Homo sapiens: one gene and its partner. Each later gene encodes a partner of the first gene's protein in a complex. Each region holds a gene or a part of one and is shown in the gene's direction. Other genes may lie near its edges. The genes, in order: BMPR1B and FKBP1A.

Region 1 (15,596 bases):
TATGTGGATAGTTCTAGTTTTGGTTGAGTATCTAGCATTCTCCTAAAATCTAAAATTTTTGCAAAATCTTTCGTTATCTTTAAAATTGGAAATGCATTTAAGTTAAGTTTCCAGTCGCAGTCTTAACGTATTTGTGTGTTACAGTGTTTGGATGCTTCTATCTGTATAAAAATATTGTGAGTTGTGCTTTCACTGGTTGAGGTATTATGATACCTTGAATTTATTTTTAACTCTTTATATAACCTAAGAGAGGGAGGAATGGAGGAAAAAATTTACTAAGACAATTTATTGTGTTAAATTTTAGCCTGCATAACATTAAGAGCTTACAGATTATTTTCAAGATTTACTAAGCAGCATGTTTAGACAATGAATGCTCAAATTATATATAATTCCTGTTTGTCCTGAATGGCTCCTTGAATGGCTCCTGTTGAGCCCTGAATGACTTTTTACAAGTGCTATAATATGTCAAGTTCCTGAGCTCCCTTTTCCTGGATTATTGGTAACATTTCTTAATTTATTCATATAATAACTGCTTTAGTAGCCTCTCATTTAGTGTTTTCAGATGGAGATTACTTTCATTAATATTTTGCAACTATTACAAATCATAAATAGCTGTTAAACATATATATTTTAGACTGATGAGTAAATCATAACACTGACCATCATGAAGTTTGGATAAGAAATTCATAGTGGATTTTTGTTTGTAATAGATAATCCAAAGATTTTCTGAAATATTTTGAAGATGTTTTTCTTTTTTTAAATTTCAGATTTCATTTGTACTTACAAGGGGTACATGTGGAGACTGTTACAGGAGTTTATTGGACCCAGGTAGTAAGCATAGTACCCAATAGGCAGTTTCTCAACCCATCTCCCCTCACCCCCGTTAATCCACAGTGTCTGTTCTTGCCATGTTTATGTCCATGTGTGCTCAGTGTTTAGTTCCCACTTATAAGTGAGAACATACAGTATTTAGTTTTCTGTTCCTTCATTAATTCACTTAGGACTATGGCCTCCAGCTCCATCCATGTTGCTTCAAAGGATGTTATTTTATTGTCTTTTATGGCTGCGTAGTATTCCATGGTGTATATGTACCACATTTTGTTTATCCAACACACCATTGATGAGCAACTACGTTGATTGTGTGTCTTTGCTATTGTGAATAGTGTGGCAATGAACATACAAATGCATGTGTCTTTTTGGCATATTCCTTTGGATATGTATACAGCATCACTCCTATTCAGCATAGCACTGGAAGTCCTAGTCAGAGCAATCAGACCAGAGAAAGAAATAAAAGGCATCCTTATGAAAAGAAGAAGTTAAAGTATCTTCACTGATGGTATGATCGTATACTTAGAAAAACCTAAAGACTCCATCAAAAGACTACTAGAACTGATAAACGAGTTCAGCAAGGTTTAAGGATACAGAATGAATATACAAAAAATCAGTCAATAGCCTGCCTTTCCTTCCTTCCTTCCTTCCTTCCTTCCTTCCTTCCTTCCTTTCCTTCCTTCCTTCTTCTTTCTTTTCTTTTCTTTCTTTCTTTCTCTCTTTCTCTCTCTCTCTCTTTCTCTCTCTCTCTTTCTGTCTGTCTCTCTCTTTCTCTCTCTCTCTCCCTCCCTTCCTCCCTTCCCTTCCCTCCCCCTGCTCCCCTCCCTCCCTTCCTTACTTCCTTTTCAAGATGGAGTCTCTCTCAGTCACCCAGGCTGGAGTGCAGTGACACGATTTCTGCTCACTGCAACCTCCACCTCCCGGGTTCAAGCAATTCTCCCGACTCAGCCTCCTCAGTAGCTGGGATTACAGGCGTGTGCCATCATGCCCAGCTAATTTTTGTATTTTTGTAGAGACGGGGTTTTGCCATGTTGGCCAGGCTGGTCTTGAACTCCTGAACTCAGGTGATCCGCCCACCTTGGCTTCCCAAACTGCTGGGATTACAGGCGTGAGCCACTGTGCCCAGCCAGTCAGTAGCATTTCTATACACCAATAACATCCAGGCTGAGAGTCAAATCAAGAACACACTCCCATTTACAATAGCCACAAAGAATATGAAATACATAGGAATACAGCTAACCAAGGAGGTAAAAGACCTCTACAAGGAGAACTACAAAACACTGCTGAAAGAAATCAGAGACAACACAAATGGAAAAACATCCTATGCTCATGGATTGGAAGATTTATGTTCAGTTTATGTGTTCATGATAATTTCCTAGATGTTTTGATCTGGGCATGCAGTGTGAAATAAGCGCATCACGGGGCTGTGCATTAACCCTTTGAGCACATTATTGTTTAGTAAGATAGTATCCTTGTTCTTAGGAAGTACCCTCTGAAGTATTTATAAGTGGATAGTGGCATTATGTCTAAAACTTTAAATGATCCAAAAATAATACAGACACACAAATAAGTAAACAAATAAAAAATTTGAATGCAAATGTATGTATGCATATTATACATAAATATTGAGAGAGAGAGGCATTGAGAAGGCAAGATAATTATTTTTAAAATGATGAAATGTTAACAATGAGAAATCTAGGTGAAGGGCACATTGGAATTCTTTTTTCTTATTTTTTTTCTGTAAGGGTGAAATTATTTCAAAATAATTAAAATCTTTGTTCACATTGATGGTAAAATAGAAATTACTGTTACCTTTTAAAAAGAATATTTGACAATATGTATGAAAAGACTTAAAATATATATCTTATGAACTAACACACCTACTTCTGGGAATCTTATTAAGGAAATAATCATTAGCATGTGCAAAGATGTATGTGTAAGAGTGTTTATTACAGAATTGTGTATAACAAAGAAGCCTTATGGCAGAATCTTTAGAATCTCCTGAATGTATGACAGAAGATTCACTTTCTAATTAGGATGATTTTATGTATAATACAGTTTAGTCTTTAAAAGTCAGGTTGTAGCTGGGCACAGTGGTTCACGCCTGTAATCCCAGCACTTTGGGAGACCGAGGATCGCTTGAGGCCAGGAGTTTGAGACCAGCCGGGCCAACGTGGCAAAAAGCCATCTCTGCTAAGCATACAAAAATAAGTGGGGCGTGGTGGCTCGTACCTGTGATCTCAACTACTCAGGGTGCTGAGGCACAGAATCGCTTGAACCCAGAAGGCAGAGGTTGCAGTAAGCTGAGATTGTGCCACTGCACTCCAGCCTCGGCCACAGAGGAAGATCCTGTATCAAAAAAAAAAAAAAGTCATGTTGCAATAATAAATAATTTCAAATAGGTGGGAGGACACTGAATGTTCCCAACACAAAGAAATGATAAGTGTTTGAGATGATGGATATGCTGTCTGATCACTGTTCATTATGTATGTATTAAAATATTATAATTATGTGTCAATATAAAAATCCTGTTGCAGAAAAAAATATTTGTTGTTCTGGAAAATGTTCACAGTATTATAAATGAGAACAACCTAGTTATAAATCAGTATATATTATATTTTGCTTATGAACATTTTTATTGAAATGATACTGTTAGCAGTAATTTTTCCTGAGTGTTGAAGAGGTAGTGATTTTATTTTATTTTGGTTAGTTGATCCTTTTCAGTTTTTCTTCATGTAACATATAATACTTCTGAGTAAAAAAAGTTACATTGAGTGGAAGAACATTCCCAGCCAAAATATTTAGGTGGCCATATAGTTAAAGGTATATAGTACAGTTGGAAAACGTCTTGTCCATAGCATCCAAAGTCATAAATTACAATACTACCTTTTAAAATTAAATGACAGTAATCACTCTCTCAAAGGTAAATGGTGCCTTTAATAAGAATGGTACTAATGGTATTACTATATAAGTGCACCTGGTTTTAAGTCAGTTTCCTCAAAATATGTCCCAGAAATCACCCGTGTAAAATTTACCTGGGATGATTATTAAAAATAAAGTACTTTGAATGGAAATCTTTGGGGTTAAAGTCAGTGAATATACATTGTATAAAGTTAAGTCATTTATATAAAATTTGAGGAATCTGATTTGTCAAGAACTAGAGTTAAAATGAGTAGTGTTTAATAATTTGTTGTATAAAAGTATCATACATTCTTTGGCTGGAACATATACATTCTTTTAAAATATGATTCAGTTTAAGAAAAAGTATGGATTTTGAACACATTTTTGTTTAAAACAACGCACAACCATATATTCTCTATTTGGCAACATTTGAGGGGTCCACTTCCTTTTTATCCACTATAAGATGACTTTATATACAACGAGTTATGTTTTATGTCCCATGAATTATATAGATGCTTTTTTATTCAAATTCATGGTATAGAGTACTCCAGAGACCACATGAGAAGAGCCTATGAACCCATGAGCTGCGTCTGTAATAAAGATGAACTACCTGTTTCTATTGTGGGTGCACAGACCCACTTAGCTTTGTTGATGTTCTTTCTGTAGTTTTATCCTGTGTCGAGCCTGTTCCTTCCAGACAGGAAGAAATGTGTGCTCTTGATTAAGTGCCTAGGTGAAGGATGATTCACGCTAGTCAAACTTATTTAATTTTGAGTATATATGGGTTTTTAAAAAATTAATTGGTATGTGAAAAGGATCTTTCACATTTTGTGCGTGATACTTAGCAAGTACCTTTAGGAAAGAGTTACTTTCTTATTTTTAAGTAAAAATATTCTCTTGATTATGGCTCTTTTTCTTTTTAATTTCAGATTTTGTTGATGGACCTATACACCACAGGGCTTTACTTATATCTGTGACTGTCTGTAGTTTGCTCTTGGTCCTTATCATATTATTTTGTTACTTCCGGTAAGTTTCTAACATGTAGATGCAAAATTTTTAATTTATAGTGTCTTCTTTTTACTAATATTCTGCTTTTGCCTGTTAGTGTTTCTCACCACAGCTTTATTTATCTTAATTAGATCTTATAGTTAACTGAAAATGTCTGTTACTGTTGATAAATATTTGTCCTAATGAAGTTACAAATAGATACCTATCTCATTTCTGCTTCAGACTTCAAAACTACCCATATAAATATTTTATCCCTAGGGAAACTAGGGTAGTTAGAGACTTCAGAGACTGGTTGTTACTTAGGTTTGATTCCAAGCAGAGAAATGGCCATGTTGAACTTAAGAGTTGCTCAAATTCCTTATTTTCTAAGCTATAACGTTTCTGATTATTAAAAGATTTTAAACATAATTTATAGATTAATCATTAAAATAAGGTCCTTTATTATATTAAATTCGGTAATTCCTATTTTTTTAATGGCCTATGAACTTATGTTCTAGATTGTGAAATATTAAGGACCTTGATATTTATGTCATTTGCCTTTTGATTAATTTATTACTCATTTGAGATACTCTGCAAATGGTCAGATTAATTGATTCAAATAAATTCATTTCTAATTGAAAACTTAAGTATTGACAAAAAGTTTTTAAAGATTAAATTTATATTATTTCTTTAGATATGACCTTATATAAGAGAGTTAGCTATAATGATTTTTGTACACCCAAAATTTACATCTTTAATTAATTAGGGACCTTAGAAAAGATTTTAAGGAATAATATTGGAGCTATTTAGAAACACTAGTAGAATGTAGTCTGCTTGGATATGTGCAATTTGAAATAAATAAAAGAAGAAAAATTGTAGATGCTTGAGACTGAGTAAAAATATGTAGTTTATTTAGTTTATTTTAAAAAATAGGTTAGCCAAACAGTAATGAGTTTTACTTGGGAAACCATAACTAAGAGTAAAAAATATGAAGCATTTAATGTATTATATTTAGGTGCTAAAATAAAACTGCTGTGATTACCATTTTAGTTGCAATATTTTACTCCATCATTGCATTTCATTATCTAAAATTATCTTCATCTATCCATCTTTAGGTATAAAAGACAAGAAACCAGACCTCGATACAGCATTGGGTTAGAACAGGATGAAACTTACATTCCTCCTGGAGAATCCCTGAGAGACTTAATTGAGCAGTCTCAGAGCTCAGGAAGTGGATCAGGCCTCCCTCTGCTGGTATGAGAAGAACACATCTTGAATTTAAAGGAAATGTTTTCTGAAAGAACTGTCAATGAATATGGGGTTTCACTTACTGAAATAGGGCACTGGACAAGGAGAAAGCTCTATGCAGTCTGTTGGACATCCGATCTCAGCTGCAGGGCTTCCTGATAACATTTTGACATATTGAGAGTAAGGTGATTGTTTTTTAATGTAGGTGTATGGTTACAATCCAGACCCTCAGACATTCTGATGAAGAGCAGATTAGAAAACATTAAACACGGGACCATCTTCCCTGTGTTTTCCATAAGGATAGCATTACCGCACTTTGGCCTGGCTTTTGAAGGCTAAAGTATTACAACCAACTGGCTTCTCAGTATTTCTACAAAGAAAGAGGGTTGCTTTTCAGCTGTGGGGTTTATGTTTCAGGGTAAAGTTCTGGCTTTTCCATTCAGGAGAAGCTTCATTTTCTGATGGTCAGCACTGCCAACCTTGAAGAGAATATATGAGCAAATACAATTTGAAAATCAATAGTATTACACTTATTTTTTTCTAAAAGAGATGTACAAATAGTAAAATCCCTTTTGGTATTAATGAATTAGATGCTCTTGGAATTTAAACTGAGTTCTTCCAGTGTTTCTTGCCTTCAAACTCATCTTTCCCATTACTGTGGAGTTCTTTCTCCAAAACCATTGATCTTGCACTGTTATGTCCTGGGTAAAATATCCTAATACCCAATACTGCTTGCAGGTCTTCTTTCCCAGCTTGGTATGTGTGGCACATAAACTCAACCTGCCTTCCTGACGTCTCCTCCCACCTCTTCCCAGTATGCTGCCTGGGCTCTAGCATCACCTTTGAGTAATTGTTTCTCAAATACAACATATATCCACGTCATTGCAAATGTAATCTCTTTACTGGACATCACTCCAACTCATGGCTCAAGGCCTACCTCATGTTTTACCTCTGTGACAACTTCTCAGTTACCCCAGACTAAGCCAGTCTATTTATCTTCTGTGATAACATTTTATTTTTAGCACTAATAATGGCCATTTAAAATAATGTTATAATTAGTGGTAATGTTCTTGTGTCTTTTGGTGGAGTCTGTCCTCTTTGGGGTAGAGGTTACATTTTGCTCACTTTCTATCCCCAGTAGAGTGGCTGATTTATTATAGGCGCTGTTCAATAATTTGTTTTTAAAAAGCTTTCAGCTCCTACTTTTAATAGCTATAAAAATACTGTCTTGTTTCTATAATCCAGATACCAAAAAATAATATTTGGCTCACATCATATAATGATTAAAAGCATATATTCTCAAGCCAAATTGTCTGGGTTCCAATCCTGGCCAGACATTGGCCTTTAAAACTAAATCAAATTCTCATTTAGTCCTCATAGCAACCCTATAAGGTAGTACCAGAAATATCAGTATAACCCTGTATTACACATCAGGGGATACAGGCCCAGATAGGTCAGCTAGCTAGTACGTGGAGAAGCCAGGATTCAAACCCAGATGATCTGTGCTCTTAACATTAGTGAGATGTGAACTAAATGTTGGTTAAATAAAACAAGAAAGTGCATTTGATGGCGGTAGGATGGGAAGGAGGGTTCTATAAAACTCAGTTCAATAAAGAAAAAGTCTCTATTACAGATTTATTTTCTGGTTTTAAGATTTGGTTATTAAGATAAACAATGCAGAGGTATACAGTTCTCTCTCCATATATTGATATGTGAGTGAATACCTCATCTTAACATTGATTTGTTATTAATTTTAATAACATAATGGGCAAATTAGTGCCTTATATATAACCACATACTTGGACCTTGTGTTTAACAAATGACTTTATACGTGCCCTTTAATTTTGCATCTTTTCTTTTTCATAAAATGTCAATTTTTTCCTACTTTAAAAGGAAATAATATCGTAGGGCTGTTGTAAGAATTAAGACTGTGTGTGTGTGTGTGTGTGTGTGTGTTCTGTGTATGTCTTCTCACAGTCCTGGAATAGTGATAATTCTTTATAACTCCTTATACATTCAGTTATTCTCAGAGTACATGAAATATAGTGATCTTTTTGAAAGTACAGTTATAGTCATTGTATCTTACAGGCATTTTATTTATACAATCAATCTAAAAAGTTGGTATCTAAGAATGTAATATAGAATTAAAGTTTAGGTACAGAAGGACCAGAAACATTTGCTAAATCAAATAAAAACTAAAATAAATCAGTTAAAAAATTTTGAAGTTATATTTTTAGGTCCTTACATGTTATAATAGCTTACTTTCTGTCTTTGGGATAAGTTGTTCCTATTCTATCAAGTATCGCCAATTCTGTCAAAACTTATAATTAAATTATAAAATGTATTATCGTTAGAAAAAAAAGCAGATGCAAAACTGCTTATGTTAGGAAATTCTCCATAGACTTACATGAGCAATGCTTTGTAAGATCTGTAAATTAAATATTTTTCTTTAATAAATGTGGGAAGTTTCCTCTCAAATGAGTGATTTCCCTGTGTATGAATTTGGCTCCCAACTGGTGCCCATGTTGCTCCTGTTTCCTTGTTTGGAAATGGAGTACAGTGGACTCAACATGATGTCTCATGGCGCACAGGGCTCCTAAAGAGAGGACGGCTGCATTACACATAAACTTGCTTGCTTATTTCCATCAAGCTTCAGTGGCTTCATGGTACATCAGCAGTTCTTTTTTAATAAATTACGAAATTTATAATCTTCATTATAAATAATATATAATATATAATGTCCCCCCAAAATGTTCATGCCCTAATCCCCAGGATTTTTTTTTTTTTAAGACAAGGTCTTACTCTGTCACTTAGGCTGGAGTGTTGTGGTGCGATCTTGTCTCATTACAGCCTTGACCTCCCAGGCTCAAGCGATCCTCCCACCTCAGCCTCCCAAGTAGCTTGTCACTACGGGTGTGTGCTACCACACCTGGCTAATTTTCATATTATTTGTAGAGCTGAGTTTTTGCCATGTTGCCCAGGCTGGTCTTGAACTCCTGGACTCAAGGGATCCTCCCTCCACAGCCTCCCAAAGTGCTGGGATTACAGGCATGAGCCACCGTGCCCAGACCTAATCCCTAGAATTTTATGTTCTATGACAAAGGTGAGCAAAGGTTGCTGACGATAAGATGAGATCATTCTGGATTATCTGGGGTGGCCCAATGTAATTGCATGGCTCTTAAAAGTACAAAAAGAAAAACTTTAAGTTTTTAATTGGTGTAAAGTATATCTCTACAAAGAATACGTTCCAGTTTGCTGATCAGGTGTTATAAGAGTTATACGCTAGATTCCTTATGTCCTCTAAATTATATAAATTGTAATAGATGCTTAGCCCTTTCAATCTTGGAACCATTGATATCAGAGTTCTTCAAATATTTTACTGTAAGTACAGATGTGATGAAGATCATATATAAAGAGACATTTAAATTTAATGCCACTTAACTCATATTTTCATTCTCTTTGTCTGTACTCCACTCTTTATAATATTGTTCAGAGCTCTCTTAGAGCTTGGTAAATAATATTATCTCCAACTTGTTACTTTCTCTTATTAACTTTTCTCTCTAATATGCTGGTTTGTCTACCTGTTTTGCATTTTTTATTGTGACAATTAACTGTCTCATTACAAAAATGTAATTTCCATTAATCTTTTCTTGCTTATTTTTTATTCAATTTTCATTTCATTTAGAGTTACTTGGCATTCTGTATCTCAGAATTCCAGTATGTAATCTGAAGAGGTTAAATCTACTTGGGTTGTTTCTGTTGACTCTCATTTATAGTGACTGTTTCTTTGTTCTAAAGAATTCATTCTCTATAATCTTCTCTCATTCTCTTTCTTTCTTCTCTCCCTCCATTTTTTTTTGTTCTCCTTTTTCCTCCCCATTCTTGGATATTTCCTTTATTTCCCTGTGAGCCCAGGAGTGCATTACAGTTTATTTCTTATGTTATACCCATGATCAAGTTGTATGGTGGCAAGAGTTCCTTCAAAGTACTATTATCCCGCCATAGTCACGGCATGAAAAGTATTCTGCAAATGGTTTCCTCAAGAGAGAGCATTTGTAATGAGGAGCCTTGGCATGCTACCAACCCATAGCAAATTTAGTACCATTTGATGCTCTCTGCTTAATGCTGAAGCCCTAGGTTCAGTTCCTCTGGTTTTAAAGGAGTCAGAGTTTAAACTCTGGATTCCAGTTCTGGTATTGTTCTTTGCCCAGACGGCAGCTTGGTTTATCGTTCCCTGGTCTGGTCTCAACTCCTTCCTTCCCTCCCTCCTTCCTCCCTCCCTCCCTTTTTTCTTCCTCCCTGCATATAGATTTCCTTTATTTCTGTATGTGCCTAACAATGCATTACAATTTTGTTTTGTTATATTTATACATGATTAGGTGTATGGTGACGAGTCTCTTCAGAGTATGTAGTAGTCCATTATAACGGGGAAGTGCAAGTATTCTACTCTGCTGATTACTATGAGCCTACTCAGGTTTTTTCTCTGAGAAAATAATAATACTAAAATAAAGTATTTCATAATTTGGAAGCAGTGTTTTGAACATTCAGAATCCACACTCAATCTCAAATATGTTTAAAAGAGTGTAACATAAATTAATAAATAAATACAAATAAGTTGTCTATATAGAGAAAAATACTAGCTAAATATATTTTACATGCAGTAATCGTTTCTTCTCTGGAGAAAAAAAGATTAAACAAATCTGTAGCGCTGTGAATACACTAACAGTGTGTTTTGGGATTTCACAGGTCCAAAGGACTATAGCTAAGCAGATTCAGATGGTGAAACAGATTGGAAAAGGTCGCTATGGGGAAGTTTGGATGGGAAAGTGGCGTGGCGAAAAGGTAGCTGTGAAAGTGTTCTTCACCACAGAGGAAGCCAGCTGGTTCAGAGAGACAGAAATATATCAGACAGTGTTGATGAGGCATGAAAACATTTTGGGTGAGTAAAAGTCTGCATAGCTATGTTCAGGGTTTCCTAGCTTTCCTCTGTCTTTCTGTTAACATCTGCATGTTAACTCATCTGTCTAGACCCGTTGCGAAATGTATTGAAGTTTTCTTCTTGGCATGGGCCCAAGAACATCATAAGTTTCTAATGGGAGACCTCACAGGAGGAATGACTAAGGCACTTCTGTGAGTAAGTGGTAGGCTGGAAATGGAATACTCTCAAATATTTTTTCTTCAGAAACAGGAAATGCGAGTGTAAAACCAGAATTTCTTAGGGTTTCTTAGGAATTTGAAGGAACTTATTTTTGTTTAAATGTTGAGAAAAGTTGTAGGAATCTTATCTGCAGGGTTTATTTATATCAATAGTTTATATTGAGAATTGATTTTGTTTCGCAAGTTAGAAATGATCTGTCTGGATCGTTCAAGTAGAAGGAGAGTAAGCTAATCAGTGGGGTATATTCCTTAATTCAAGAATTCAAGACCCTGTTTTGCAATGTCTTATGTGTAACCATAATACCATAAAGTAGTTTATATACCATAGTAGTTTGTAATACCATAAAGTAGTTTAAACATCAACTACTGATTAGGAAGGGACCATATTTTCAGATGTAAACTCTTAATCTTTCTCTACTCCTACAGGTTTTTTTCTTTTTCTTTTCTTTTCTTTTTTTTTTTTTTTTTTTTTTTTTGAGATAAAGTCTCGCTCTGTCACCCAGGCTGGAGTGCAATGGTGTGATCTCCGCTCACGGTAATCTCTGCTTCCCAGGTTAAAGCAATTCTCCTGCTTAGCTTCCCGAGTAGTTGGGATCACAGGCACATGCCACCATGCCCAGCTAATTTTTGTATTTTTAGTAGAGATGGGGTTTCACCATGTTGACCAGAGTGGTCTTGAACTCCTGACCTCAAGTGATCCACCCGCCATGGCCTCCCGATGTGCTTGGATTACAGGTGTGAGCCACTGTGCCTAGCCTTACTTGTACAATTTTGATTGCTTCTTATTGGTATTAGTCATTTAATACCATCATAGGCATAGTCAGGAAATTGAATGAAATGCTAAACAAAAATTATCTATGACAAAGAATGATGTTTGAGAATATGAATTATTCCTGATACTATTTGGAAAACACTAAACCTTTTCATCTTTTTTCCTTTTAGGTTTCATTGCTGCAGATATCAAAGGGACAGGGTCCTGGACCCAGTTGTACCTAATCACAGACTATCATGAAAATGGTTCCCTTTATGATTATCTGAAGTCCACCACCCTAGACGCTAAATCAATGCTGAAGTTAGCCTACTCTTCTGTCAGTGGCTTATGTCATTTACACACAGAAATCTTTAGTACTCAAGGCAAACCAGCAATTGCCCATCGAGATCTGAAAAGTAAAAACATTCTGGTGAAGAAAAATGGAACTTGCTGTATTGCTGACCTGGGCCTGGCTGTTAAATTTATTAGGTTAGTATCAAAGTGAACAAATACATGTTTTATGACTCTTTTCTGTTACTTTTTATTTTGTAGCGCAGTGCTTCTAGGATATTTAGTAGAAGAGGAATATCATTAATTTTGACATTTGACGGGGAGAACCACCAAACATTTTATTAGCAACACAGCATATTTGGGTCTGTTCTATTGTTTCTATGCTCATCAGAGACATTGCTTAGAGACTGTTCACATTAGGTTTGCAGCTGTCATTAAGTTATATAGAAAAGAAGTAGCTAATTCCTGGGAATACGTAGTCAGAATTCTGCATAACATTTGCAAGTAGGAAAAAGTTTTGGGGAAAATTTACAGATTATATATGGATAAAGACAATTTTTATATGGTATAGGAAAGATAACTTGCATAGATGTTTTGGGAGAAATGTTAGAAACTAATAAACAAAACCCAGCTGTTATTCAGTACTGTTATCCTGTACCTGAAACAGTGAATTTAACATCTGTGCACATAAACCAGAGCATGTTGTAAAACAGTGGTTTTCAGACCCTTAGGGCTGCTTGGGTTACATCAGTAGCTTCTTCACAGTAGGGAGGGGAGATGATAGTTGGGACTCTATTTTGCTTACTCTTACTTTAATCAGAGAGGCTCCTTCCGTCTCACAGATGATTTAATTCGAATAAATGGTTTCTCTGTTTGGAAAACAAAACAAAATGAGCTTGCAAACCACTGGTGTAGAGAAATCATCGTATAACTACCTTTTAAAGAACTCAGTTTAGGCTTAGCCATTAATAAATGTTGGATCATCTTGTGGATTTTTCTAAGTAAGACTCTGTAATACATGGAGAGGAGCACAAAGAAAAAGTCATGGAGATTATTAAAAGTTTGGAAAGTAAAATTCACAAAAAAAGACTGATTGATTGGTATTTTCGGCCAGAACTGAAGGCTGAGGTGTGATTTAATAACATACCCCAAATATATGAAGGTCTTCACCATGTAAAGGATGGGAAATTGAAGTTCTTGATCTTTAAAAACAAAGCAAGAGGAAATGATTTGGGCTATAGATTTAAGTTAGAAATATGAACCTCCTGCCAATAAAGATTATTAAATCCTTTCTCCCTTCTGATTTTTTTTTCCTCTGACCTACAACCCTTTTCAAGTCTTCCTATAAAAAAAAAAAATCCCACAATGCTTCTTAAATTACCAGCCTCTCTCTCCTTCTCTCACCCTGTTAAATTTCTCCCAAGAGTTCCAAAAGATCATCTGCTTCGAAAACCCAGCAATTTGTTAATAGTCTTGTAATTTGGCTTCTGTTCCATTCTCTTTGGACACTGCTGTATTCAGAGACACCACTGGGCTTGGTCACCAGAGGCCTTCTCTATTGCCATCACCCTATCCACAGTGTCCAAACCTTTCTTTCTCCTGTTTTCTTGGTGTATCTCTGTACTCCAACTTCTCCTTTCTCTCTCTCCACTGGCTCTGCTCTCTTTTTACCTCTTACATATTTTCCGACTGCTAGATTTCCTGCTGTATCTGCATTTCCTTCCTAGTTCCCAGTTTTGGCTGATCCATTCTTAATATTAGGTATCTGACATCATCTTTCGTTCCCTAACTTTTGGTTTGCTCAAGTGAATGAATTTTCTTTCCACAATATTCCCATTTGTACTGGGCCAGTGTGGGCCTTCTATACCATTTTTCTAGATTCTGGGGTGAAGCATTTTGAGTTACTTTCTCTTTGTCTCTCCTATTTCCAGTCTTCTGTACATGCTGCCACTGAATTTATTTTCTTGAAGCCTAATTTTGGGCATCAAAATAATTTCATAGTTTCCTGTGGCTTCGTATTAAAATGTAGTTAGAGTCCCTTGGTGCAGTGGACTCTTTTCTTTTCTGACCCTGGGCTATTCTTCTGCCCTATTTCCACCACACTTCTTACCTTTGGCAAGATTTATTCTGAAGACTTCACACTTCTCATACCATCAAGTGTTTATAACATGCTTTTATCATTACCCGAACACCCATATCCCCTTCTGTATCTAGATCACAACTACTGATCTTCACAGTTTCTTCCTTTGAGACACCTTTTTTTATTTTTATTTTTTAGACAAAGAGTGGCTCTGTCACCCAGACTGGAGTGCAGTGGCACCATCACAACTCACTGCAGCCTTGACCTTCGAGGCCCAAGCAGTCCTCCCACCTCAGCCTCCTGAGTAATTGGAACTTCAGGCATGTGCCACCATGCCTGGCTAATTTTTTTTTTTTTTAATAGATGGGATCTCACTATGTTGCCAGGCTGGCCTCAAACTCCTGGACTCAAGTGATCTTCCTGCATCAGCCTCCCAAAACGCTGGGATTATAGGCATGAGCCACCATGCCTGGCCCACCTGCTGTTTTTTTTTTCATTATACTTTTAAGTTCTAGGGTACACGTGCACAACGTGCAGGTTTGTTACATATGTATACGTGTGCCATGTTGGTGTGATGCACCCATTAACTTGTCATTTACATTAGGTGTATCTCCTAATGCTATCCCTCCCCCCTCCACCCCACGACAGGCCTGGTGTGTGATGTTCCCCACCCTGTGTCCAAGTGTTCTCATTGTTCAATTCCCACATATGAGTGAGAACATGCGATGTTTGGTTTTCTGTCCTTGCGATAGTTTGCTCAGAATGATGGTTTCCAGTTTCATCCATGTCCCTACAAAGAATATGAACTCATCCTTTTTCATGGCTGCATAGTATTCCATGGTGTATATGTGCCACATTTTCTTAATCCAGTCTATCATCGATGTACATTTGGGTTGGTTCCCAGTCTTTGCTATTGTGAATAGTGCCACAGTAAATGTGTGCATGTGTCTTTATAGCAGCATGATTTATAATCCTTTGGGTATATACTCAGTAATGGGATGGCTGGGTCAAATGTATTTCTAGTTCTAGATCCTTGAGGAATCACCACACTGTCTTCCACAATGGTTGAACTAGTTTACAGCCCCACAAACAGTGTAAAAGTGTTCCTATTTCTCCACATCCTCTCCAGCACCTGTTGTTTCCTGACTTTTTAATGATCACCATTCTGACTGGTGTGAGATGGCATCTCATTGTGGTTTTGATTTGCATTTCTCTGATGGCCAGTGATGATGAGCATTTTTTCATGTGTCTTTTGGCTGCATAAATGTCTTCTTTTGAGAAGTGTCTGTTCATATCCTTCGCCCACTTTTTGATGGGGTTGTTTTTTTCTTGTAAATTTGTTTGAGTTCTTTG
Region 2 (15,596 bases), on another chromosome or scaffold:
GGGGAAGCGAGAATCGCAACTCGGAGCATACACACAGATCTGGTGGTCTTTGGTATGTCCGAAAAACAAAGAGAAGGCTGGGCGTTTTATTAGAAAGGGAAATGCATTGGCACTAGTAAAGTTTCAGGGAGCTGGCAAGCTCTGATTGGTGACTGACAGTGGTAAGTAAAACTAGTATTAGGTTATGGCGGGTTGTTTCAGCAGTTACTAGCTGAATCTGGTCTCAGGGGGACAGCAGGCCATTTCCGCAGCAGTTAGTGGAAATATTGGTTCTTGGAGCAGGCGCTGCGTGCCTCCAGTGCTTTTCCCCTGGCCCCTGGATTCTGATTCCGTTGGGCATAAGAAGAGTGACCCAATTCGTATTATCAACTTTCACATGCTCAATAAGAATGTATGCATGTAAGCTATGGGTGAGTGAATGAATTTGGACAACTCCTCCTCCAGTGAAGAAAAGCAGAACTTACAACCTTGAGCCACTTATAAAATACTAACATACTACCACCACCTGTGCGCTGTCTTCTCAGAACCATGCTCTTCCCAGGATGAGTAACTGTGTGCTTCTAAGTGGAAACCTGATGACAGTCACCCAGTCAGTGACTGGCGGACCCCCTATTATTACTCCCATTCTTTGGGCAGGGAGATGCTTAACCGGCTGGAAGCACAGAGGAAGGGCAGGAGAACGAAGCAAGTCACCCGGCAAACACAGCTGTATCCGGAGGCCTCCGGGCTTCCGGAGGTCTCGGGGCTTCTGGGCTTCCGGTCCCTCTTCCGGAGGCCTGGGTTTCCGGGACGTCGCGCGCCGTGTGGGGCGCGCACGCAGGGCTGGGCGTGAGGGGGCGTGCGCGTGCGCAGGCGACGCGCCGAGGTACTAGGCAGAGCCGTGGAACCGCCGCCAGGTCGCTGTTGGTCCACGCCGCCCGTCGCGCCGCCCGCCCGCTCAGCGTCCGCCGCCGCCATGGGAGTGCAGGTGGAAACCATCTCCCCAGGAGACGGTGAGTAGTGGCGCGCGGCGGCTCGGAGTACCTCTGCCGCCGCGCGCATCGGCTCAGCATGCCCGTCTCTGTCTCCTCAGGGCGCACCTTCCCCAAGCGCGGCCAGACCTGCGTGGTGCACTACACCGGTGAGTCGGGGGCCCAGCGGGGAGGGGGCCCGGGCCGCAGTCCGCAGCCCGGGTGCGGCTGGCCGTCGAGGCCTGGGGGCCCGGGGCCTGGGGTCCGGGGCGTGGCGGCGGCGAGGTCCGCATGGCCCGAGGCTGAGGCCTGGGCGGTGGCTCAGGGGCAGCCTGGGGCTTGCGGAACCCGGGCGGGTCTGAATCGGCGGCTGTGAGCGTCGGCTGCGGGCTAGGTGTTATCTGACCCGTCAGAAGCATTTCTGCACCTTAGATGCTGCCCTTATGCCCGCTGCACAGATGAGGAAACTGAGGCTTGGCGAGGCGAAGTCACTTTCCCAAGGTCTCACTTTCCCAAGGTCACACTTTCAGGAATGGGCAGAGCTCTGGCCAGGGACCATTAGGAAGGATTTGTACCATTTCTGTGCCCCTGCCCCCACTTCCATCCCTCCCTTCACTGGAGATGAGGACGAGGTAATTCCGAGTCTGCAGAGCTGCTGCTTCCTCCGGGGAACTCGGAATTCGCCCCTTTGCCTAGGGTGGGGAAACATCCCACTTCCTAAGTCATTGCTTTGGCCCTTCCTGGCCTTGGGGGAAGTAGAGCTGCACGGCCTTCTTCCGTCTTTTTACTTTTGAGCCACTTACAAATCCAAGGCTCAGTGACAGCGCTGGCTCAGGCTGACCGAAAGCTGCACGTGTAATTTAGTCCCCCAGCTCTTCTAGAAGTAGAGACTTTTCTCGTCCTCATTTTAAAGATAAGCATCTGGAGGCTAATACATAGTGATAATACAAGCCAAAGGAAATTTTAGACACCTCCCCCTCCCCAGCCAGAATTCAGACATCAGAGTCGTGTGCCTTGGGGCTGTCTTACTCCTTCTCCTTACAAGCTTGTCCTGGTTTGTATGGGGGCGGGGGAGGGGGAGAGCTGAGTTGGCGGAGACTCAGTGGCTGTGGGTCCCACAAGGGTGGCAGTGATTGGTGTAGCCACAGTTGTTGATACGAATAACCTTCCCTCCCCCTCCTCCTTCCCCTTTCTCAACCTTCCCACCCTTTCCTCTGTTCCCCCTCCTCCTCCCTCTTTTTTTCCCACTCCCTCTCCTCCTCTTCCTCCTCCTGGGTAGTAGGCTGTGGGCAGTTCTGGCCAAGTTGCTCACGAATAAGCTCCACCTTTCTCTTCCAAATCATGGAAACATGGAGGGATCCCTCTATTGAGGGAAATGACTTTCACTGGAAAGAGGAAAAGGCAACTAACATCCCCCCTCCCATGCCCTTTTATTTCTGTGGCCCTTCCCCGTGGGTAGAAATGGGGGCAGGAGGTAGAAGTTAAGGACTAGAACTTTAAAAATTCTGCCAAAGGAGGAGTTACTGAAACCCATCTTTCTGGGGAGCAGGCAGTCTCATGTCCGTGAAGGAAGCTGGAAAGTGCTTTTGATGTTTTAGATAGCTGTCCTTGTAGGCCACAGTCAGCACCTGAGCCTGGGAGGTCTGGTAGATGAAAGCGCATCCTTTTGGTGATTTGTCATCGGAAGGATGAGGAGAGTAACCATTTACAGTGCTGGGGTGAGTGGGCAGTTCATTCAGTTCCGCAGCCAACTGGGGCAAAGATTGGGACTCAAGCCGTGAGGAGCTGCCTTCTGCCGCACCCCCTCCCCACCCTAGCTTGTACATAGCCACACTAGGGTGCTTGGCAGCATGTGTCCCACTCCCACGTCTGCCCCTCATGCTCGCCCATGTTCTGGTGCTGCCAACAGGACTGGACCCCAGCATGTAGGCAGTGCCGCACTTCACCATGTCTCTTTGTGAAATATCCCCACACAGCATGTCTGGAGCCTTTTCCTATGAGAACAGATGGTCATGAGACCCAGAACACCATCAGGGTTTCCAGTGCCTCTTGAAGTGTGTGTTTTTCTCGCGGGTGGCACGCACCCACATGTTTCCAGAGCAGCAGCAGGACCCTGGCATGCATTAGGACAAAAGCTTTCTTTTTGATTTCGTTTTGATAAGCCCTATAAAGACGCCTTAGTGAGAAGCCAGCTCTGCCTCATGCTCACAGAATAGACTGTTTTCGAGCAGGCTGGTGGCTTTGTTCCCGTGGGTCTTTGTCACCAGCCTCCCAGGAATAACCTGTTTGAGACCTGTGGGGGCGTGAGAGGAGTGGGTAGGCACTGGGAGATCTCATCTGTAGCAGTTAAGGCTTTTAAGTCACTGGGAACAGAATCCATCTTGGGGGAACATGATCAGAAGGTGGAGGTTATAAAGGTTCCAGGGGTTTTCAAAGGCAGAAGCCCACTGGGTCCTAAGAAGGGAAAAGAAATAATCATGATGCCTCTAGTTCTCATCTCTGTTTTTTGGTTGTTGTTTTGTGTTTTGTTTTGTTTCCTGCCTGACTGCCTCAGTAGTCTCCTGTTAGAGATTTGTGTTTGTCTGCTTCTCCCAACTGGTGGGTGGTGGAAGTCCCCTGCATGCTCCCCCGTCCCCCCTCCCCCCTCCCCCCTCCCCATGGCCAGCTTCTCTGTCTTCTTTTGAGTATCTGGCTCAGATTTCTTGGCTGTGATTCTGATTGTTACTTCTCTGAGAAGGAGAGTTTGAGTAAGGTGAACACTCTTGATCCAGTCAGCTCTTGCCAGGTGTCCACTCAGCTGATTTGGGCACGGGTCCAGAGAAAGAGGGGTGGAAGTAAGGTGGCCAAAATCTCCCCTTAGCCATCACAGGTGTGCAGAGCACAGACTGACCTTTACCACATGGATGCTTTAAATGCCACTAATGGCTGTCAGTCACCTTGATGTCACTCTCAAGGGTCCCTCTGGTGACTTCCGTGACCTTCTGGCAGAGCACAGCATGAGCAAGGCCTCAAAGGAATGCCTGCACTACCTCTGTGGTACCAGAGGGAAAATACAAAGTTCACTATCACCAGCTAAGCATCTCCTAGGAGCATGACAGGCATTGAGGTGGGAGGGAGGTGGTGGAAAGGTAAGCTGCCAAGTAAGTGCCTTTAGGAGCCAGGGAATTCTCATGGCGCCTCCCTGCTGCCTCCAGTAGCTTCGTCATCTTTACTGTTAGCTTGTCCTGGCACACAGCTAGGTTTAGACCTCTTTTACTTACTTCAGCAGGCCGTGTGCCTGCCATTGTGAGAGCAGCCCCAAGGGGATTGAAGGAATGTTTTCTTTTTTCTTCTTAAAAAGTAACTAACTGGACATTTTGTCCTTGGGATCAGGTTTAAGTCAGGTATAGCCTCCCGGTTTCTGACTGAGAAAAACCAGGAGCCCCTCAACCTCATGTCCTCAGGAGGTTGACTGGGAAGGCTGCTGAGGCTCCCGGGACAGGTGTGGCCACTTTGCTGCAGCCTCCCTCAAGCCCCTTGCTTTTCCTTAGCTTTGTTCCCCCCTCTCCTCTGCTTTATTCCATCCACTCCCTTGCTAGGTATCTCTTGGTTGGTGATCTGATGTCTGGAGGGAGGCTCACCCTCAGCAGAGATGCCTCAGATGGCTTCCCCTGACGTGTGCTGTCTTGAGGCACACAGGCTGTAACTGTTGGGCAGGGCTGCAACAAGTCCCTTTGCCTTCCCACAGCAGATGTTTTTTGAGCAACAGCAGCAAGCCAGGCTCTAGGGACATGGCTAGTGAACTAAATAGACAAAGACCTGATCTGGTGGGGCTTTGCTTATGATGAGGAGACTGATAGTATGGCCATGGAGCACATCAGGTAGTAAGAAGCGCTGGAGAGATTAAAGCAGAGTGAGGGATGGGAAGGGAAGTTGGCTGCTTTTCGTGAGGGTGATTGGAAAAGGCCTCTGAAAAAAATGGCATTTTAACATTCACTCAAAGGACATTGGAGAGGGAGCTACAGGGCTGTCTAGAGTATCCAGGCAGAGGGAAGAGCTAGTGCAGGACCCTGAGGCTGGAGCCTGCTCGGTGCATTAGAGGAACAGTAAGAAGACCGGTGCGTTAGAGGAACAGGAAGTGGATTGTGTGAAAGGGTATGTGGCAGGAGATGAGGGGATGGTGGAGCCTCGTTGGTTTTTATAAAAACGTTGCCTTTTTCTAACTCAGGTGAGAGCCACTGGCTGGCTTGGCTTTTAATGCCCGCCCCCGCCCCCCCAACCCACGCTCCTTCTGGCTACTGTGTGGACAATGGGCTTTTGGGGGCAAAGGCAGAAACAGGACACTGGTTGTATCCCAGGTGTGTGGAGTGCCAGCTCAGGCAGTGGGCAGAAGTGGTGCCAGGTGGACAGTGATCCCCAAAGAGCATGTGGGTTCTTCGCTGTGTTCTGATCTTGACCCTGCCATACAACGGGCTATGAGAGCTTGAACAAATTGTCCCACAGTTCCCAGCTTCCACATGCTGTCTATAAAATGGGAGTAACGATGCCTGCTGTGAAGCAAATGCCTATCGAGACTACCCAGTTGTCTCCAAAGTGTTGCTCTTTTTTAAAACCACAGTTCCATTGAGCCTCACTCATCGCAGTTGTTATGTCTGTAATCTCAGTCTAGAAGAGTCCTTACGCTGTTTTTTTCTTAATAACTCTGATTTCTTCAAAGAGAGCAGGCTAGTTATAGAATACTCCACATCTGTCTTACTGTTTTCTCATGGTATTGTTTAACTTGTTCCCTGCCTTGATTTTCTGAACCGGATGTTTAATCTTTTAAGTGTCTGAATAGATTCCGTTTAAACATTTTAGTGTGAGTACTTCATCCTCAGCACACATGGGAAACATCACTAGTTGTGATGCTAAATTTGATCTTTTCTGTAAAGGTACATTTTTCCCTTTGCATTTAGCAGTGATCTGTGGAGTGCTTAGGTAGCCATAGATGGTCTCTTGCTCATCAGCCTTTCACCTAGTGGTGTTTACACCATCTGATCATTCTCCCCTGAAGAAGTCACTGGCATTCACAAAGTGTTGATTTTTAAAATTCCTTCATTCTTTCTAAATTTATTAGCTGTTATCCTTCTATAAGATAAGGTAAAGTAATTCTTTACCTTTAAATACCAAATTTTATTTTTATTTTTTGAGACAGTGTCTCTGTCACTCAGGCTGGAGTGCAGTGGCTTGATCATGGCTCACTGTAGCCTCGACCTCCCAGACTCCCATCCCGGCCTCCCATCCGGCCTTCTGAATAGTTGGGCATACAGGTGCATGCCACCTGTCCTAATTTTTGTATTTTTTGTAGAGACGGGTTTCGCCAGGTTTCCCAGGCTAGTCTCAAACTCCTGGCCTCAAGTGATCCACCCTCCTTAGCCTCCCAAAGTGCTGGTAGTACAGGCATGAGCCACCGTGCCCAGCCTTTAATTACCAATTTTTAAAATGAAAAATGAATGTTAACTGATGGGGTATTGCCATTCCCAGTGGGGGCAAGTGACTTTTTCCCCCTCTATTTGCTTTGACTGTACTGTGGGCTGAAATTTTTTGTCAGGGCCTTAAGATCAATGATACCCATTATTCTTTTTGATGCTAATATCATCCTAAATTTGGCCAGTAGGAGCCCTTTAAGCTGGCTCCAGTACCTTTTTGACAGGCTCCCACCATTCCTTCATCCATTTCTCGGTTTCACTACTCTGGTCCAATTATCAGCCATCTTTCAAAGAGCTCTGGTTCCTTTCAGTGGGGTCCATGACCTTTTTTTTTCTTGGTAACAGCTTTATTGAATATAATTTACATACCATAAATTCACCTATTTACTCATAGATGTTTTAACTAGAACATTTTTAGGCTTAAACTGATTTTTATGAATTACTGAGGGGTTTATTGTATCCATAAACTGGAAATCATTTGTCTGCCTTGGAATTTTCTCTAAAAATATTGTCACCTGCTGTTTCCCATGGAAGAAGCCAAGGTTATGAATAACTTAATCACATAGCATTCAGTTCTCCCTTTGGTGCTCATGGTGACATTTGTTTATTTTTACTTCTATTTTTTCTTCTGTTTTTTTGTTTTCTTTTCCTGCTAAAAAGCTTAACCAAGTCTCTGCATTCCCTCCCCTGGACCCCTTTGATTTTGACCAGGTGTATTCTAGCAGTGCAGAAAGTCGGGGAGGTAGAAATAACCAGTTCTTAGATGCTACTGTCTCTTTCTGTTACATTTGCTCTTCCTCTCCCAGGAGCTCAAGCCACCTTGGCCTGCATTCATTCCTCGAATGCTCCAAGCCTTTTCCCACATGGAGGTCTCTGCCCCTTTGCTTAGGTGCCACCACACTGCCCCCACTCCCCACTGCATGACAGGCTCTTTTCTTTATAGCACAGCTTAAGTAACACTTTGGATGCATACATGCATGCTTCTAATTCTGCAACAATGCACCCATCTATTTTCTTAGCCCCCATCATAGTCAGGATCCGTGTAGTTAAACATCTGCTCTTTCCCCAACCGACTGAAGGCTCCAGGAGGCCAGACCCACACTAGTGTTGTTCTCCAAGGTCTCCCCATCAGTCTTGGCATAGAGTAGCTATTCAGTGACTGTTTGAATGAGTGGCCAGTTAGGACCTGGCATTCCCTCGGTCACTCAGTGAATATATAAGGAGCTGGGCAAAGCCTCAATGTTGCCCTCAAGAAGCTTACCCTGTAGGGAGTGGTCAGTTACAATGAAAGTACCTCAGGCAACCTACACCTATAGGCTAGAACTTCTTGGAGGAAGTGCCATTTGGTCTTGGGTGTGTATGGTGCAGTCAGGCAGGAGGAAAGCGTCTTCCAGGTATATACACAGGCCAGGAGGAGAAAAGGGTACCTTTGATATTTCTGTAAGTACTTGATGAATGTCTGCTATGTACAAGACACTGTCCTGGCTACCAAGAATTTAGGAGTGAAGAAGACACAGTTCCTGCCTTCATCTCACACTGTAGTGGAAAAGACATAATAAATATGATTAATAAGCAAGACTGTTGTGTATAAGCTAGTAAGTGTTAAGGAGGGAATAGGAAAAGGTTGAGGTTTTAGATAGATTGGCAAAGGCCTCAATGAGAAAGTGACATTTGAGCAAAGACTTGAAGGAGGTAAGGATGTAACCTATGTGACTGTTTGAGCAAGATCATTTTAGGCAGAGAGAACAGCAAATGCAAAGGCCCACGGGTGGAGGTATCCCTGGTGTGTATGTAGAACATAAGGAAACAATGTTCTGGGACTGGAAAAGTACAAGAGTAATCAGAGGTGAAGTCAGAGGGATGGTGGTAGGGGCGGAGGCTTGACACTTCTTAGAGGGTCTTGTAGGCCATTTTAAGAGTTTTATCTCCTGAGATGGGGGAGTCACAGGAGTTTTTCAGCCGAGGGGTAGTAGGGTCTGGCTGCTGTGTCAGGTTTAGACTGTAGGAGAGCAAGAGCAGAAGCAGGGAGACCAGGGAGGGAGTTGTAATAATAGTCTGTAACAGAGGTCCAGAACTCATGCCTTTAACCATTATACCCTATAGAAAATGCATATTTCTACCACTTCCAGCTAGCTATTGTTAAGTGGTATTTCTTTTGATTTTTTTGGAGATGGAGTCTCACTCTGTCGCCCAGGCTGGAGTGCCCTGGTGCAATCTCGGCTCACTGCAACCTCTGCCTCCCGGGTTCAAGCAGTTCTCCTGCCTCAGCCTCCCAAGTAGCTGGGACTACAGGCGCACGCCACCATGCCCGGCTGATTTTTTGTATTTTAGTAGATACAGGGTTTCACCATGTTGCCCAGGCTGGTCTCAAACTCCGAAGCTCAGGCAGTCCACCTGCCTCAGCCTCCCAAAGTGCTAGGATTACAGGCGTGAGCCACTGCACCCGGCCTAGTGGTATTTCTTTCTCCCCCTCCCCATGCGATATAATGTGGTAGTAACTCCTCTTATTTATACTGTGATTAAAGTGGAAAATGGAGAGACACACCCACAGGGCATGCATTCTGGTCTGTGTTCTTTTTATTGCCGTTGGATCCTGCATATTCTTCCCATCATGGGCCCTGCCTTTGAAAATACACTTTTGGTTATAGGATCTAAAGGGATTTAGCCAAAGGTTAGAAGCATTTCCATACTGCGTATGGGAAATGTGCTTGCACTGTTGGTGATCTCAGGAAAATGATAGTGAGAGTGAGCTGGTTCCCTCTTTGGGTTGGCACTTGGACCTTTGGTCATACCCCTCACTCATAAGGAGTTCTCAGAACCCCACTTCAGGGAGGTTGTGCTGGAATACAGCCACAGAGACCCAGAAATGGAATAATAAGAATGTAAGATTTGAATTTGTATCTTTTGCCTATCTAAATGTAGAATCCCTTTTTACCCATCATGATTGAGACAAGTGGGTAGTTGGTATGCTAACATAAAAGTGACATGGCTTCTGTAAACATTTGATTTCAAACTCTAACATAAATCATTTGCTAAAGGACTATGTCTTTATCTTTGAGGATGGCTCTGCTAGTGGAGTTTCCCATCATAGTTCTTGCAAAAACCAATTTGACCTTTTTTAAAGTAGAGCAAAGAGTATTGTGAGAACATTTAAAAACCAAACCTTTCCAGATTTTTAAGATTTCTTTCTCTAAATGTAGTCTCCCATATGATTATTCACTAGCAATAGTTTTTTAGTGACTTGCCTTTATTGAGTCTTTCCCAGGAGTCAGCTAGAACCGCTGTTTGTATTCACACTCATTTTATTGATTTACATACTATTTAATTACATTATATTTACACAGTAAATATAGCTACCATAAATGGATTTGGGGACAAACACAGCTAACCACTCCTCCCTTTGTGAACACAGAACTCATATGGGAATGAAGAAGTGATCATGAGCTAGAGACTAAAGCATGAGGGGAGTGCTCTTCACTATGCTGGGGTACGAAGGCTGTGAGTTTTATGAGTCTCCAAGTAAGGCAGCTGAGTAAAAGGTGGTTAAGAGAACTTCTGTGTCTAATAAGAAGAGGGAAAGCAAACAGCTAAACCATTAGACCTTGAGCCATACGCCCATCTGGGAATGTTCTGAGTGGCTTCAAATGCAAAGCTGCAGAAAAATACTGGCTCCCCCTACCTCCACCCATTCAACCATTACACCTTTTTTTTTTTTTTTAAGAGACAGAGTCTCGTTCTGTTGCCCAGTCTGGAGTGTACTTGTGCGGTCATAGCTCACTGCAACCTCAAACCTCTGGGCTCAAGTGATCTCCCACTTGATCCACTCAAGTAGCTAGGACCATGTCTGGCTAAATTTTTTTTTTTTTTTTTTTAATTTTTTGCAGAAACAGGATTGGGGACATGAGTCTTGCTGTGTTGCCCAGGCTGGTTGCAAACTCATGCCAGTCTCAAACTCCTGGCCTCAAGTGATTCTCCTGCCTTGGCCTTCCAAAGCACTGGGATTACAGGCATGAGCCTCCTCCGCAGCTGGCCTCATTGTACTTTTTGTCATTAAGAAACTCACCTGCGTGTTGAAAGTAGAAATCCTTTTCCCTCTCCAAACTGTAAATGGCAAGGACTTTATTTTATTTTGAAGGTTTGGGGCTTAGGATATTCTGGTTTTTTGTTATGTTTGATTTTTGGTTTAGTTTAGTCATTTTTTTTTTTTTAATCTTAAAACTTCCCATATTTTGTCCCTGTAAAATGCTGCCTATAGGAAACACTCCTGCAAAGATTCATGAGCAACTATAAACTGCATTGTGAGTCATGAGCTTTCACTACAAGTAGTGAAGCCATAAGTCTGTAGAGGTGCCTTCTTCAGTCCTGTTACCCAGTAGAAGGTATATGGCACTCTGCCCTTCCCCAAAGCAGAGTGCCTTGGAAGTGACTCCATTTCTATTGGGTTATTAGTGAAATAGTATCCCAGTGGTCCTTGTGAATCTCCAGGTCCTGGTCTTGAGTCTTAACCACCGCTTCAGTGGCTTGAGCCAACCACCAGGAACACAGTCTGGGGATACTTTGCTGCCCAGGAGCTGCTGGCCAGGTCTCCCTCTGCTGATTCCTTGAAAAGCAACAGGAAAGAGCAGGCTGCTGTGGAGTAGACAGACTTGAGACTCTCTGCACCGTCTTGTTTTGTAAACCCTTTTGCTCCCTTTCCAAGGATTTCAGTTCAGGAGGAGACCCAGGCGAAGATGACGTCAACAGCCTCTGCATGCAGTCAGTCATAGCTTTGGCTTCTTTCATGGTCTTGTGCTTTTAACTGGAGCACATTTTCACATTTTTCTTACTGATTAGTAACTAAAGGTGCTTAAAGTAAAGTTTACCATTCTGGGATTACCCCTCATATTCTTGTTACCATATAGGGAAGAAGGTCTAAATATGAAGGCCTCATGCTTGTCCTTCTGGTTCTTAAAAATCATGCAAGTAAAGCAAATCCAAGAGTGCTCTTGAGTACCAGCACCATACGTGCCACCAGGACACAGAACGCAGGCCAGGTCTGTGAGCTTGGGCTGCATTCAGTCAGGAGAGCCAAGACTAAATACTTAAAATAAGAATATGGAGCTATTCCAGGCAGTTTGTTAGGCATGAGTTATAGGCTTGTACGGCCAGGAATGAAATTGGTCAGTTCTGCAATTAGAAGGCAATGCTTGTGATGTTTTATGCTGAGTGGCCTTTAGAGCTTAAAGACTGTCAGCTGTCTTGTCTGCACTGTAACCTCAGTTGCCTTCTCTGAGCAGGGCACGCTTTCTTTAGGAAATTATGGCACTAACTTGGCAGGTGGTTTCACTGTTCAAGGGCTCCAGCTCCTGGCACAAGTGATCTCCAGAGTTAAAATTGGAGCAGCTGCTGAGACTTGACTTGCTGCCTGCTTTACCTGTTCCCTCCCCAAAGAGAGGAAGCACTTTTCATTCATTGCCAGTGTGTATGTGGGAGCTAAACATATATAGCATTTTAGTAAATGCCACTGCCTACTCTTTTTCTTTTCCTTTTTTAAAAAAGTTACTGAGGCGTGATTGAAATCCAATATACTGCACATTTTAAAAATGTACAGCTTCATAAATTTTGATGTGTCATTGTTTCCCTTTGAATTCACCCCTCCTTACCCTCCTCTAACAACTACTGATATGCTTTTTTGTCAGTGTAGATTTGTTGCATTTTCTAAAGTTTTATATAAATGGAATCATACAGTACGTTCTCTTATGTCTGCCTTCTTTCACTTGGTATAATTATTTTGAGATTCATCTGTATTGTCCCATGTATCAATTGTTTGTTCCTTTTTGTTGCTAAATATTTTTCTATATATAGAAACATGTATTTACCAACTTACCCGTTGGTGGATGTTTGGGTTAGTTTATAGTTTTTGACTATCGCTAATAAATCTGCTTTGAACATTTGTGTACAAGTTTTTCTGTGGACATAGCCTGTCATTTCTCTTGGATAAATACTCAAGATCAGAATGGCTGGGTCATATGGGAGGTGTATGTTTAACTTAACTATCAAGCTGTTTTCTGAAGCTTTATGTTATATTCCCACTAGCAGTGTATGAGAATACCAGTTCCTTCACATCCTCACTAACACCTGACGTGGTCAGTCTTTTTAGCTTTACTCATTCTAATCAGTGGTGGTAGATGCGTTTCCTAGTGGTTTTAATTTGCGTTGTTATAATAACTAGGAATGTTTAGCATCTTTTCATATGCTTACCTGCCCTCTGTCTTTTTCAATGAAGTATCTGTTCAAATCTTTAGCCCTTTTTTATTGGTTTTCTTAATTGTTGAATTTTGGTTTGTTATATTCTGGATATAAGTCCTCTATCAGATATGTACTTTGCAAAAGTTTTCTCCCAGTGTATGGTTTGTCTTTCATTTTCTTAACAGTGCTTTTTAAAGTACTGAATTTATTTTGATGAAGTTCAATTTATTCTTTTATAGATAGTGCTTTTTGACATCATACTAAGAAATCTTCACCCAACTCGAGGTCACAAAGATTTCTTTCCTATGTTTTCTTCTATAAATTTGATAGGTTTAGTACTTAACATTTAGGTCTAGGATCCATTTTGAGTTAATGCTTGATAATGGTGTGAAGTTTTTACTGTGTTATGTGTGGATATTTTGTCATTTCAGCCCAATGTAATTTTCATCTCAGACATTGTAGTTTTCATCTCTGAAAGTTGGAGTCTTATGGTTCTCCTCTACTAATTCTAACATTTGTGTTAGTTCTGGGTTGCTTTCAATTGATTGATAAGTCTCCTCATTGTGGGTCCTGTTTTCTGCCTCTTTGCATGCCTGGTAATCTTTGGATGCCAGACATTGTGAATTTTGCCTTTTGGGGTGCTGGATATTTTTATTCCTATAAATTTTCCTGAGTTTTATACTGAGAAGCATTTAAGTTACCCGGAAACAGTTTGATGCTTGCGAGTCTTGCTTTTGTGATTTGTTAGGTAGGTCTAGAGCTCAGTTTAGGGCTGATTATTTCCTACTATAGGCAAGATCTTCCTGAGTATTCTGCCCAGTGCTTTGTCAATCATGAGCTTCTCCAGTTTGACCGGGGGGTAGTAAGCACTAATCCTAGCCCTGTGTGAGCACTGGATACTGTTCCTCTAAGCCTTTTGGATAGTTCTTTTCCTGGCCTTGAATAGTTTGCTCAGATACATGCACTGAGAGGGACTCTGCTGAATACTCAAAGAGGACCCTGCAGATCTCTGGGGATCTCTGTATAGCTCTCTCCTGCTGGTACTGTGTCCTATGGACTCTAGGTGCCTTGAGCTCCACTCCAGGTCCCTCTCCCTGGAAACTCCCAAGGATATAGGGCTGCCCTTGTTTCCCATGTCTCAGGATTTATTGTTCTTCATTACAGATGTCTGGTGTCCTACAAACCATCGTTGTAGCTATTTTGTCTAGGTGGTTTTTAGGTTTTAGTGGACTTTTTGTAGGGAGGAAGGGGTTGGTTGGTTGGTTGTTGGTTGTTTCATGAACAAATCTGATCCTTGTCCTCCACCGTGACCAGAAATGGAAGTTCTCACTATCTGTTTTGACATTACAGACTGAACAGCATAATTCCTACACATGCACACTCATTCCAGCTTAACAAACACTGCTTCCACCTTCTCCCCCAGGCTGACAACTTAGGGCCATAGATAAGTGGCCTGTTCCTCCCCACTGGGGAAGCCCTCCTTCTCCTTGTCCTGTAGCTTGTGCCAGTTGTGTGACACCCACTTAATCACATACCACCCCACCCATTTCGGGGGATTATTGTTTAGCTTTCGGACTCGATTATGGGAAATCCTCTCCTTGGACTCAAGGAACCCCAACATCACTGCCACCACCCAACCCTGCCCTGCGAAGATTTCTCCTTAGAAAGTAGATGAGATTGACAGTTGGTGACTGTGGTCTGAAATTCTGGAGCAAGTCTCATGCCCCTTTCCCAGGGACAACAGAGCATCCAAAATAGCATAGGAAAATTAAGATCCTAGGCAAAGGTCCTGTTTAAAGCTCCTTTACTTAGAAATCCTGCTTCCTGGCTTTTATGGTTTTAAGATACTAGGGAGAGGTTTGCCCCTCAGTGTCCAAGATAGGCTCAGGAGAGCTGGGGTTAGACAGGCATCCTCACATAGAGCCACTGAAGAACATACACATCTCCATGCTGGCTCAGCAGCAGCAGCAGCAGCAGATTCAGGCTGTGTCCTGCCTAGTGCTCCTAGCCTGGTACCAGTCAGATAGATAGTTGAAGTATCTCACCTCAGGCAAAGCAACATTGATACATTGATGCATGTAGTGTCTGGAGGTTGCTTGGCATTGCATTTGATCAGGAATAAAAAGGAAGTTTAGGGAGTCTGTCTCAGTACCCTGTGGCTTTCACTGCAATCAAAATACGATCTTGCACAGGTCAGAGCCGTGTTCAAGTTTGGCAAGAAATAAGGCTAATTTTTTATAGGTATACCGTACTTTCCAAATTGTGGGTTATGAACCATTAATGCATCATGAAATAAATGTAGTGGGTCACAATCAGCATTCTTTTTAAAAATGAGAAGTATATGCCATGTAGTAACTTACATGTAAATTTTGTTTATACACAGACAAAATGTGGGTGTGTACTGGGTCCTGACATGAGACACTGTTCCCATTGTCGCGGATCAGGGATAGTTCTTTGTGGTTTTAGTTGTTGAGTTCTGTTTCTTTGTTATTCCTTTCGTGGCAGCACTACATTGTAGCGTGCTCACTAAGTGTCAGAGGTTTACCTCACGCCAGTTGTGTTCATTTGGCTGCAGGTAACTGAAGACCCAACCTAAGGCAAAGCAGACTTCTTTATTTTTGTAAGACTTCATTAAGAGCAGTTTCAGATTCTCAGCAAAATTGAGAGGCATGTACAGAGATTTCCCATATATCCCCTGGTCCCACACATGCATAGCCTCCTGTTATCAACACCCCCCACTAGAATGGTACGTGTGTTGCAATTGACGAACCTGCATTGACACATCATGATCACCCAAAGTCCATAGTTTACATTAGGGTTCACTCTTGGTGGTGTACATTCTGTGCATTTGGACAAGTGTATAATGGCATGTATCCATTATATATAGTATCATACAGAACATTTTCACTGCCCTAAAAATTCTCTGTGCTCCATCTGTTCTTCCCTCCCTCTACCCCTGACTCCTGGCAAT

What was found.
Region 2: the proteins of BMPR1B (region 1) and FKBP1A are in contact, whole or in part, in a crystal structure (PDB 3MDY), measured with the Homo sapiens proteins. Residues at the interface, in NP_001194.1 of Homo sapiens: Leu179 (codon at 5,920), Gln182 (codon at 5,929), Ser183 (codon at 5,932), Ser186 (codon at 5,941), Pro193 (codon at 5,962), Leu194 (codon at 5,965), Leu195 (codon at 5,968), Val196 (codon at 10,711), Gln197 (codon at 10,714), Arg198 (codon at 10,717), Thr199 (codon at 10,720), Lys202 (codon at 10,729), Gln203 (codon at 10,732), Glu238 (codon at 10,837), Trp241 (codon at 10,846), Phe242 (codon at 10,849), Thr245 (codon at 10,858), Glu246 (codon at 10,861), Gln249 (codon at 10,870), Ala264 (codon at 12,075), Ile266 (codon at 12,081); in NP_000792.1 of Homo sapiens: Tyr27, Phe37, Asp38, Asp42, Arg43, Lys45, Phe47, Lys53, Gln54, Glu55, Val56, Trp60, Tyr83, Thr86, Gly87, His88, Pro89, Gly90, Ile91, Ile92, Phe100.

The regions. Positions count from the first base shown.
Region 1 is NC_000004.12:95,119,152-95,134,747, forward strand, and holds part of BMPR1B (bone morphogenetic protein receptor type-1B isoform b precursor), read left to right. Parts: intron 1-4,658; coding exon 4,659-4,755; intron 4,756-5,831; coding exon 5,832-5,970; intron 5,971-10,710; coding exon 10,711-10,903; intron 10,904-12,063; coding exon 12,064-12,361; intron 12,362-15,596. UniProt on the Homo sapiens protein: On ligand binding, forms a receptor complex consisting of two type II and two type I transmembrane serine/threonine kinases.
Region 2 is NC_000020.11:1,378,358-1,393,953, reverse strand, and holds the start of FKBP1A (peptidyl-prolyl cis-trans isomerase FKBP1A), read left to right. Parts: upstream 1-899; 5' UTR 900-955; coding exon 956-992; exon of another isoform or gene 993-1,054; intron 1,055-1,072; coding exon 1,073-1,120; intron 1,121-15,218; exon of another isoform or gene 15,219-15,596. UniProt on the Homo sapiens protein: Keeps in an inactive conformation TGFBR1, the TGF-beta type I serine/threonine kinase receptor, preventing TGF-beta receptor activation in absence of ligand.